4 separate regions of the Homo sapiens genome follow, and regions 2, 3 and 4 are each linked to region 1. The links come from fine-mapping of genetic effects on gene expression. A gene starts in region 1. Each other region holds a variant in brackets. All regions are shown on one strand. Distances are between the middles of the regions.

Region 1 (2,685 bases):
CCTAGGAAGGTTTCTTAATTGTCATTACTTTCCAGGAGCACAGGGCTCAGGTAGAATTCAACGTTGTCAATATGCAGGGTTAAATGAGTTGTTTACTTTACAAAAGTGACATCTTAAATGTGCTTCTAATGTCCTCTTGTTTCATAATATGCTTGTATTATAATACTTAATTAGTCTCTACGGATGACCACGTTCTTAGTTTCAAAGGTTTTTTTGAGGTTCCTGCAGCTGCTAAACTTGGGGTTCCTGAAGTAATATTTCATTTTCGAAAGCTGTTTTTTTTCTTAGACTCCTCTTACAGAATTGCCAGCTCGTCTGCACAGCCTGTCTATTTGAACCTACGTTTATTTTGACCCACCCCAACCCCCAAAGCAGGTGGCCAGGAAAAAATAAAAGGTCCCAACACCTTTTCTTTTGTTTTCTGGATCTCCTCCTTTCCGGAAGCAGGGGGTCAGTGACAGGAACTTTTCGACCCCAGCTTAGTGTCTCTTAATCCCTCTTTAGCCCGTGGAAGCCTCGGAAGGCGTGGCCAGGGCAGGGCATCCAAGCCGAGCGCCGGGGGTTGGCACCGTCTCTCTCCCTGGCACGGCGGAGACAACTGAATACTGAAAGACAAAACCAACACACCGCGAGGAATGAGCCACGCCTCCATCCACGCCACAAAGGCACGTTTCCAAGATCTTTTTAGGATCTTACCCATGTTTTGCAGGGAAAAGCGACACAGACCTGAAGCGCCTTCAGGTTTTTTTTTTTTTTTTTTTTTTTTTTAAGACGACGTCTCCCTCTGTTGCCCAGGCTGGAGTGCAAAGGCGCGATCTTGGCTCACAACCGCCGCCTCCTGGGTTCAAGCGATTCTCCTGCCTCAGCCTCTCGAGTAGCTGGGACTACAGGCACCCGTCACCACGCCCGGCTAATTTTTGTATTTTTAGTAGAGACGGGGTTTCACCATATTTCCCAGTCTGGTCTCGAACTCCTGACCTCAGGTGATCCACCCGTCTCGGCCTCCCAAAGCGTTGGGATTACAGGTGTGAGCCAACGCGCCCTGCCAGCCTTCAGTTATTTTAATGAAGCGATTTTGTACAAATCAGCCAGAGGGAGGGAGAGTGGGAGGGAAGAGGAGGGGTCAGCCAGTCCTTCCAGTTAGGAGAGTCCCGGCTCACTCACTGCTTCTAACTCACTGCTCACTCACCGCTTCTTAGCTTAGGAATCACCTACAATAACCTCGTGTCACTGTATCTTGTGATTTCAAACAAGGAACCCTAAAAACCTGAAGGCACACTGGGTGCCGCTCAACAATAAGGCTCGGCTGCCAAGACGAAAAAAAAATTGCCCTTTCTCCTCCTGCCACCCTGGAGGTGCCAGGTTGTAATCTGCAAATGTATTGTCTGGCCCTTAGGGCTTGACAGTTAATGATTGGTCGCTGAAGGAGCCGAGCGGAGGAGCGAGAGGGACGCGAGCAAGCGAGCGAGGGAGGGAGCGCAGGGCCAGAGCGGAGCCCCAGCCGGCCGCACAGGCACCGCCTCCCGTCTTCCGGGACCCGGCACTTCGGGGGTTTTGGGCGCCGGAGACGCGCAAGGGCGCCGATGGAGGCAGACTCGCCAGCGGGCCCCGGCGCCCCAGAGCCCCTCGCGGAGGGAGCGGCGGCCGAGTTCTCCAGCCTGCTGCGCAGGATAAAAGGCAAACTCTTCACCTGGTGAGTGGAAGGGGCGTGCTGCAGCTCCGCTGGGGCGTGGGGGCGGCTGCGGGCCCTGCGCGCACGTGGACAAGGAGCACACTCTCTGAGGCCCCCAGCAGGGAGGCAGAGGTGGCGGCCGCACGGACTTCGGTTCGGGGCTCAACACGCACACCAGGTATGGTGCGCTTCACCTGGCGTCGGGAAGCACTTGGTGCGTCTCCCTCGGCTCCCGTTTCGAAATCGTGGCGATGTATTTTGGAGGATTTGGGGGGAAACCCACCCTGTGGCACTATTAGGTCGGTCCTCTGGGGCGTTCCGCGGTGGAGGGACGAGGTCCCCGGGGATGCTGTGAAGGAGGAGTGCCCACCTCGGGCTGGGCAGGTGGGTGAGCGCCACTTCCTGGCGCCGGCGCCCTCATTCCATCTGCTGCCGAGCCAGCCAGACTGGGCGCGGTGATTCAAGAGTTGACCGAAGTGAGAAATCCTGGTTAAGTTTTGTGCTGCTGCCGGGTGGGAGACCAGAGCCGGCTCTCTCTTCCTGGGCCTGAGCGAGGTGATATAGCCACCCCCAGGGCTGGGGTCCAGGGAAGCCTGTTTGTGGTATCACTATGCTCTGTGCGAAGTAGGGACAAATGTTTTTAAGGAGTGGGCAGCGACTCTAGAAAGCGTTTCTGTGGTTGCTGGAGGACTTGCACTCTGGAAATGAGAGAACCCAGGACCTAAATAGTGAAAGACATTTATTGGGCACTCGCTCTGTGTCAGGTACTGTGCATAACAATTTATATGGATAATATCAGCTAATCCTCACCACTTTAGGAGATGGTACTATTGTTATATCCACTTTGCCGCTGGAGAAACAAAGAAGGCTAAGCAATTTGCCCAAGGCCACAAGATGATCTTTAAGGGGTGATGCGTTCAAGCCGTAGTCTAAACAGCGTTGGCCACTGACAACTCATGAAACAGATATTTGATTTTTTTTTCATATTAACAAAGCGAATTTCCCTTTAACGA
Region 2 (2,685 bases), 38 kb before region 1:
ACTTGGCTCGCTGCAACCTCTGTCTCCTGGGTTCAAGCCATTCTCTTACCTCAGCCTCCCAAGTAGTTGGGATTACAGGTGCACGCCACCACACCCAGCTAATTTTTGTATTTTTAGTAGAGATGGGGTTTCACCATGTTGGCCAGGCTTGTTTCTAACTCCTGACCTCAAGTAATCCGTCCACCTCGGCCTCCCAAAGTGCTGGGATTACAGGTGTGAGCCACTGCACCTGGTCCCTACAGTCTTTAAAAGGAATAATTCATCCTTCATGCAGTTGCCTTAGTCAGAAGCCAGGGACTTAGCCTAGATGCCTCCATCCTCTCTACCCATGGCATCCAGTCAGCACTAAACCGTGTTGATTCTATTTCCTACATATGTTCAACCGTGTCCCCTTCACTTCATTCTTAACTCAGGCTCTCATCATCTTTTGCCTGGACTATTACAATTGCCTCCTAACTAGTGTTTCTGCCCCCTCCTTTGTATAACACACATTAGTGACAGAATGATGGTGGCATTCCCATGCTTCCAGGTGCTGCAGCTCCTCAGGAGGCATCAAGTGCTTTATGGCATGTGCCTGCGACCTCTATGACCTCTTCTTTCACTGCATCTCCATGTGCCCTCTGTGAGCCAGCCATATCCCATGTGTTTGAAGTTCCTCTCCTTTTTGCCTGTAATGTCCTTTCTATCTCCTTGGCTGTCTACCAAATTCCTACCTTTATTTTCTTTTATTCTATTTTATTTTATTTTATTTTATTTTGAGACAGAGTCTCACTCTGTTGCCCAGGCTGGAGTACAGTGGCACGATCTTGGCTCACTGCAAGCTCCACCTTCTGCATTCAAGCAATTCTTCTGTCTCAGCCTCCTGAGTAGCTGGGATTACAGGCACCTGCCACCACACCCGGCTAATTGTTGTATTTTTAGTAGAGACGGGGTTTCACCACATTGGTCAGGCTGGTCTTGAACTCCTGACCTCAGGTGATCCACTTGCCTTGGCCTCCCAAAGTGCTGGGATTACAGGTGTGAGCCACCG[C/T]GCCCAGCCCCAAATTCCTACTTTTTAAGGAGCTGCTTTTGCCATCTTGTCAATAAAGTCATTCTTGATCCCCTTTCACTCACTCTATACTGTCTCTTGCCACTCAGCCTCAAGAGCTTCTTCTCCATCTCCTTCTCTTTCTTCTTTTTTTGAGACAGAGTCTCACTCTGTCGCCCAGGCTGGAGTGAGGTGTCACGATCTCAGCTCATTGCAAACTCTGCCTTCTGGGTTCAAGCAATTCTCATGCCTCAGCCTGTCCAGTAGCTGGGATTACAGGTATGTGCCATCACGCTTGGCTAATTTTTGTATTTTTAGTAGAGATGGGATTTCACCATATTGGCCAGGCTGGTCTTGAAATCCTGGCCTCAAATGATCCATCCACCTCAGGCTTCCAAAGTCTGGGATTACAGGCGTGAGCCACTGCACCTGGCCAAGAGATTCTTCTTTTCTACTTCCAAAGCACCTTCTATTCAACTCTATCTGGAGACCATACATGTCTGCATTTAAGAGCCCAGACTCTGGAGTTAGCAAATGTGGGTTTCAATCTATCACTTATTAACTAGGTAAATTTTTTTCTTTTTTTTTCCTTTTTTTTTTGAGACAGTCTCACTCTGTTGCTCAGGCTGGAATGCAGTGGTGCAATCTTGGCTCACTGCAACCTCCGCCTCCCGGGTTCAAGCAATTCTCTGCCTCAGCCTCCCGAGTAGCTGGGATTACAGGCACCTGCCACCATGTCTAGCTAATTTTTGTTTTTTTGTTTTTTTTTTTTTTTGAGACAGAGGCTGGCTCTGTTGCCCAGGCTGGAGGCCAGTGGCATGATCTCGGCTCACTGCAAGCTCCTCCGCCTCCTGGGTTCACCTGCCATTCTCCTGCCTCAGCCTCCAGAGTAACTGGGACTATAGGCGCCCACCACCACGCCCGGCTAATTTTTGTATTTTTAGTAGAGACGGGGTTTCACCGTGTTAGCCAGGATGGTCTCCATCTCCTGACCTCATGATCCACTCACCTTGGCCTCCCAAAGTGCTGGGATTACAGGCTTGAGTCACCGCGCTCGGCAATTTTTGTATTTTTAGTAGAGACCTGGTTTCACCATCTTGGCCAGGCTGGTCTTGAACTCCTGACTTAGTGATCCACCCACCTCGGCCTCCCAAAGTGCTGGGATCACAGGCGTGAGCCGCCAAGCCCAGCCATAAATTTTTTTCTTAAATTTTTTTTTTTCCTGCTCACCGTCCACCGTTATATGACCTCTTTAAGCCCCAGTTTCCTGTTCTATAAATGGAGATAATATTTGATACATGGTAAGCACTTAATATAGTAATAATAATAAGTATTTTTATTATTGCATTATTTAACTTTATTTTAATTGGCGATTTGTATGTATGGCTTCCTCTGCTGTCCATGCACATCTGAGGTCAGAACTTTGTTAACTAATTATTTAACAACATTAAGCGCTTATTATGATGTGCATATGTAATACATATGTGCACTTATGTAACCCTCTCAATGTTCTATCTGAGTCTAAGTTTGCTTGACTCCTAAATTCATGCTATTTTACCATACAGCCTTTTGGTTTGAATATTAACCTCTTTTTTTTCTTTTCCTTTTTCTTTTTTTTGAGACAGAGTCTCACTCCCATCATCCAGGCTGGAGTGCAG
Region 3 (2,685 bases), 21 kb after region 1:
TAATTTTCATGTTTTTAGTAGAGACGGGGTTTCACCATGTTGGCCAGGCTGGTCTTGAACTCCTGACCTCAAGTGATCCCCACATCTTGGCCTCCCAAAGTGCTGGGAATACAGGAGTGAGTCACTGCGTCCAGCCAGAGCCAGGGTAATTTGTACCAATTGATCTCCCTGTATGGTATCATAATTGTCAGTATTACATATGGTATATTTTATTGTTGTCAGGGAAGTAGTGTATGGAACGGGAAAAATGTAGACTTACTAATTTTCTGATCTTGGAAAAGTTACTTCTGAACAGCTGAAACTGTTACAACTATTTTTCAACAGTATAATGGTACTAATAATCTCTATCTCACAAGAGTTTTTGTGATATTTAAGAGAAACTTATCGGCCAGGTGTGGTGGCTCATGCCTGTAATCCCAGCACTTTGGGAGGCCGAGATGGGCAGATCACCTGAGGTCAGGAGTTCGAGACCAGCTTGGGCAATATGGCGAAACCTCATCTCTACTAAAAATATGAAAATAAGCCAGGCATGGAGGTGCACGCCTGTAGTCCCAGCTACTTGGGAGGCTGAGGCAGGAGAATCGCTTGAACCCAGGAGGCAGAGGTTGCAGTGAGATGAGATAGCGCCACTGCACTCCAGCCTGGGGGACAGAGCAAGACTGTCTCAAAAAAAAAAAAAAAAAAAAAGAGGGCCGGGCAAAGTGGCTCACGCCTGTAATCCCAGCACTTTGGGAGGCCGAGATGGGCAGATCACCTGAGGTCAGGAGTTCAAGACCAGCCTGGCCAACATGGTGAAACCCCATCTCTACGAAAAATACAAAAATTAGCTGGGCGTGGTGGCGGGCGCCTGTAATCCCAGCTACTCGGGAGGCTGAGTCAGGAGAATCGCTTGAACCCAGGAGGTGGAGGTTGCAGTGAGCCGAGAGTACGCCGTTGTACTCCAGCCTGGGTGACAAAAGCAAAACTCCATCTCAAAAGAAAAGAAACGAAAAGAAACATCATATATAAGTACTTAGTATGGCACCCACACACATTTATTTTTATTAAGCCACTTCACTTTTGTTGAGGTAAGAAAGGTTTTATGAATCCCTAATAAATGCAAGTAGTGTACTTGCAGTGTAACAGTGGTTATGAGCTCAGCCTCTGGAGCCACACTGCTTGGGTTGGTCTCCAGGTTCTGCCATTTGCTAGTTGTGTGATATTGGGCAAGTTACTTAACATCTCTGTGCCTCCATTTCTGTTATCTGTAAATAGCAGTAATAATGGTACCCATCTCAGGATTGTTGGGAGGATTAAATCAATTAGCGCTTGGTATATAGTATACACTCAATAAGTGTTAGATGTCATAATTATTATTACCATTACT[A/G]TTACTAGATATTGTGAGACTATGTGTGTATAAGGTGGGGGTGGGTGGGTGGCAAAAAATCCATAACACGATGTCTGCATTTAGAATCTAGTAAAGCAAGTGGAACATATAAAACACTACAGGCAGAATATAGAAAATGGAAAAAGAGGATTGCAACCAAAATGTCATAGGAATTTAGAGGTCATCATTCTGGTAGTGGGTGCCTTTCTTACTATCTTTATTCCCACAATTAATTTACTTTTTTATTTTTATTTTGAGACAAACTCTCACTCTGTCGCCCAGGCTGGAGTGCAGTGGTGCCATCCCAGCTCACTGCTACCTCTGCCTCCCAGGTTCAACTGATTCTCCTGCGTCAGCCTCCCGAGTAGCTGGGATTACAGGTCTGTGCAACCATGCCCAGCTAATTTTTTTTTTTTTTTTTTTAGTAGAGACAGGGCTTCTCCATGTTGGCCAGGCTGGTTTCGAACTCCTGACCTCAAGTGATCCACCTGCCTCGGCCTCCCAAAGTGCTGGGATTACAGGCATGAGCTGCTGCTCCTGGCCTTATTTCAGTTTTTTAGCATGGCAGAATGTAAAGAACACAGGCTTTGGAATCATATTTGGATTTTAATCTAGTGCTGCTATTTATTTGGCACATAAACTTGGTTAAAAGACTTAAATGCTGCCAGAATGATACATATATAGTGTTGTATGAACATGCAGTATGTTAATATACGTAAGAGCTCATCAGTGGCTAGCACTTCCCTGTCTTTTATTATGTAGGGGATGGGACAGTACTAATGTGTCCCCTGTGTTCTTCACTAAGTCACATGGGACATAATGCATAAGAATAAATCACTGGATTTATACTTTCAATTTTTGTTGGTTTCCATGGAACTAGTTCAGCAGTTTCTGGCTTGATGGCCTGGTTTTATTTTCTCCCTGGCAAACGATGAAAGTGTTTCAATCCAAGGTAGCTCCCAATCAGCTTTGCCTGCAGTTTTTTAATAGACTCTTTATTTGATGTGATTATTTTGTTACTAAGGAAATTCGCTGAGATGAATGTAAATAGTTATAACATTATGATTCAAGTGTTGTTTTAAAGTATCACATGCATTGTTGACTTTGTATATTCGTTTTCTATTGCTGTCATAACAAATTACCACCAATTTAGTGGTTTAAAACAACACCAATTTAATATCTTACTGTTCTGTAGGTCAGAAAGCCAACATTCATCTTCCCGGGCTAAAAATCAAAGTGTTGCAGGTGTTGCATTCTTTTCTGGAGGTTTTAGGGGAGAATCAATTCCTGGCCTTTTCCACCTTCTGGAAGCTGCCTGC
Region 4 (2,685 bases), 67 kb after region 1:
TGTAAGCAGTGTCTAGGGTCTGAATGGGGCTCTCTGTGGTATCCATGATGACCTTTTATTTTCTCCACTAAGTGGGACTATATGCAGAGTGGGGTGTAGCTGGATTATGACAGAGAAAAGCAAAGGTCCATTTCTCCTAAAGATCCAAGGATCCAGGTGGCTTATGTGCCGGGTGCTGTTGGCAGAGTCCCATCATTCACCAGCATACATGGGAAGGTTTTGTGCATTAGCATCTCCTTAGGTAACTTTCAGAAAAAAGATCATGAGGCCAGGCATGGCGGCCCACGCCTGTAATCCCCCGCACTTTGGGAGCCTGAGGCGGGCGGATTGCTTGAGCTCAGGTGTTCGAGACCATCCTGGGCAACATGGAAAAACCCCGTCTCTACAGAAAACACAAAAATTGGCCGGGTGTGGTGGTGAGTGCCTGTGGTGTCAGCTACTCTGGAGGTTGAGGCGGGAGGATCACTGGAGCCTGGGAGGTGGAGGTTGCAGTGAGCCGAGATTGTGCCACTGCACTCCAGCCTGGGCCACAGAGCGAGACCCTGTCTTAAAAAGAAAGAAAGAAAGAAAGAAAGAAAATAAAAAGATTATGAGAGGGTAATCCTCGAAGCACAGTTGGCAAAAGCCAGCAGCAAAGATGTGTATGTGAGGGGCACAATTCACTGCCTGTTCTTCCCTTCTAGTTTTCAGGACTCTACATCCTGTCCTTCACTGTCATCATGGTGGGGTTTATCCTGTACTGCTCCACCCCTACTCGCACGGCCGAGCCGGCTGAAAGCAGCGTGCCTCCAGTCACCAGCATTGGGATTGACAACCTGGGGCTGAAGCTGGAGGAGAACCTCCAGGAGACCCACTCTGCTGTCTTGTAGCTGGAGAAGATGGCGCACCCATCCCCCACCAGGATAAAGCAGAGCCTGCTGCCTGCTGAGGGGACACTTGGGGAAATAGCAGACTCAGAATGGACACTCTACAACCCTGGGTTGGATCCAGTGGTTAGGTTTTAGAAAGGAACACTGAACAAAGTTCAAAAGTAGAAATACCAAAATAGAGCAGAAACCAAGCTAAGAGTGTGTTTCTGTGTTTGAGGACCAATATCTGTTCGTGTT[G/C]AGGAGATGAGGTGCAGACTCCACACTGGGGTCTTAGAGGCACCAGTGGGAAAGCAGGACTGGGGAGAGATCCAGGACTGAGCCAGCCTCAGGCCAGGGCGGGAAAGCAGGCTGTCCAGGCTGGGCTTGGTGGTCAGGAACAGGGGCAGCTCACGGTGGCTCTGGAGTACGTTTCCTCTGTCAGATGCTTCAAGGTTTTTTTTTTTTTTTTTTTTTGCTGAGGCAGTTATTGTCCACAGGCCTTTGGGTACAGATGAGGCCTTGGGGCTGACTGCATGTGGCAGAAAACGGGTGGGTCAGCCCTTGAAAAGTCTTGAGATATAAGTGTGAGTACTATACAAGCATTAAACTGGAGTGCAGTAAACCTAGGAACCTTCCCACAATTGTTTTTTTGTTTGTTTGAGATGCAGAGTCTAGAGTGCAGTGGTGCAAGCTCAGCTTACTGTAACCTCTGCCTCCTGGATTCAAGTGTTAGTAGCTGGGATTACAAAAGCATGTGGCCCCACGCCCAGCTAAGTTTTGTATTTTTAGTAGACATGGGGTTTCACCATGTTGCCCAGGCTGGTCTTGACCTCCCGACCTCAAGTGATCTGCCTGCCCCGACCTCCCAAAGTGCTGGGATTACAGGCTTGAGCCACCGTGCCAGGCCTGTTTTGTTTGTTTTTGTAGAGAGATGGGGTTTCGCCATGTTGCCCAGGCTAATCTCAAATTCCTGAGCTAAAGCGATCTGCCCACCTCGGCCTCCGAAAGTGCTAGGATTACAGATGTGAACCACTGTGCCTGGCCTGTTTGTTTGTTTGTTTAAAACATTTCTCCATCACTCATTCCAGGTCCCAGAGCAAACTCTCTCTGCTCTCGGAGCCTGTGACACTGGCTATGTGCTCCACAGTTTCAGTCCCAGGTCATACTCTCCAACAGTTTTCAGAGCTCCATATATATGTAGATGCCATCCTTTCTAAAAACTTCTCACGACCTCCTGGAATATTCCTATTGATCTCATTTTATTTAGCATCAGCTCAAGAAACTAAGTCTTAGTGCACAGTATCACAACAAAGAAAAAGCTTTGTTTTTATAACTGGTAAAAACAAGAAAAGATTCTCATCAAAATGAAAATATAAAATTAATCATTTCTCACCAAAGAGTATGCCTGGGAGCCTCCAGCTGTTAAAAGACAATGCTATTACTACTTCTTATCAAAAATCTGTAATGCCCTGTGATTTTTATGATACTTCTTCAATACAAAGTGTTAATATGTGTCATCAGTATAATAACAACCAACAAAATGCCACTTTCAGAAAACTGTATGTAAATTTTTTGTAACAATGTAAAAAAGAAATGGGGAGTAAGTGTTCACATCATTAAAAGGCTTTGAATTCATGGAAATACATCAACTGTGTGGTTTCTTTGATTAACCATTTCCCCTTGTGGATTTTTTTTCCAGTAAAGCCGTCCTTCAAAACCCTTGTGGATTTTTTTTTCTTCTTTTTTTTTTGTTTGAGTCTTGTCCTGTCGCCCAGGCTGGAGTGCAGTGGTGCCATCTCAGCTCACTGCAACCTCTGCCTCCTGGGTTCAGCAATTC

Direction of the effects. Positions count from the first base shown, and alleles are read on the strand shown. Sizes are in standard deviations (SD) of each study's normalised expression. Not every link is listed here.
For the expression in lung of the gene that starts at base 1,564 in region 1, allele C in region 2 goes with a higher level than allele T (small effect, 0.21 SD a copy in GTEx).

What was found. PIP is the estimated chance that this variant, and not a neighbour inherited with it, causes the effect.
Region 2: its variant is fine-mapped to the expression of SLC35F2 in lung (GTEx, PIP 0.93).
Region 3: its variant is fine-mapped to the expression of SLC35F2 in aorta (GTEx, PIP 0.99). The same link has a PIP of 0.9 or more in tibial artery.
Region 4: its variant is fine-mapped to the expression of SLC35F2 in whole blood (TOPMed, PIP above 0.99).

Annotation. Positions count from the first base shown.
Region 1 is chr11:107,857,666-107,860,350 of GRCh38, reverse strand. It overlaps SLC35F2 (solute carrier family 35 member F2), which reads left to right and starts at 1,564. Exons shown (of 8, transcript NM_017515.5): 1 at 1,564-1,693. The coding sequence starts at 1,584. It overlaps LOC124902746 (a long non-coding RNA gene), which reads right to left and starts at 1,121. Exons shown (of 2, transcript XR_007062876.1): 1 at 697-1,121; 2 at 1-605. RefSeq lists a silencer at 1,439-1,748 and an enhancer at 1,969-2,038.
Region 2 is chr11:107,895,377-107,898,061 of GRCh38, reverse strand. No RefSeq gene overlaps it. Among named protein-coding and RNA genes, the nearest start is that of RAB39A, 32 kb to the left of the region's middle. The variant C/T (reference allele first, on the strand shown) is at 1,031.
Region 3 is chr11:107,836,630-107,839,314 of GRCh38, reverse strand. The region is part of intron 1 of SLC35F2 (solute carrier family 35 member F2); the gene reads left to right. Among named protein-coding and RNA genes, the nearest start is that of SLC35F2, 21 kb to the left of the region's middle. The variant A/G (reference allele first, on the strand shown) is at 1,367.
Region 4 is chr11:107,790,799-107,793,483 of GRCh38, reverse strand. SLC35F2 (solute carrier family 35 member F2) reads left to right here. Exons shown (of 8, transcript NM_017515.5): 8 at 684-2,493. The coding sequence ends at 869. Among named protein-coding and RNA genes, the nearest start is that of SLC35F2, 67 kb to the left of the region's middle. The variant G/C (reference allele first, on the strand shown) is at 1,107.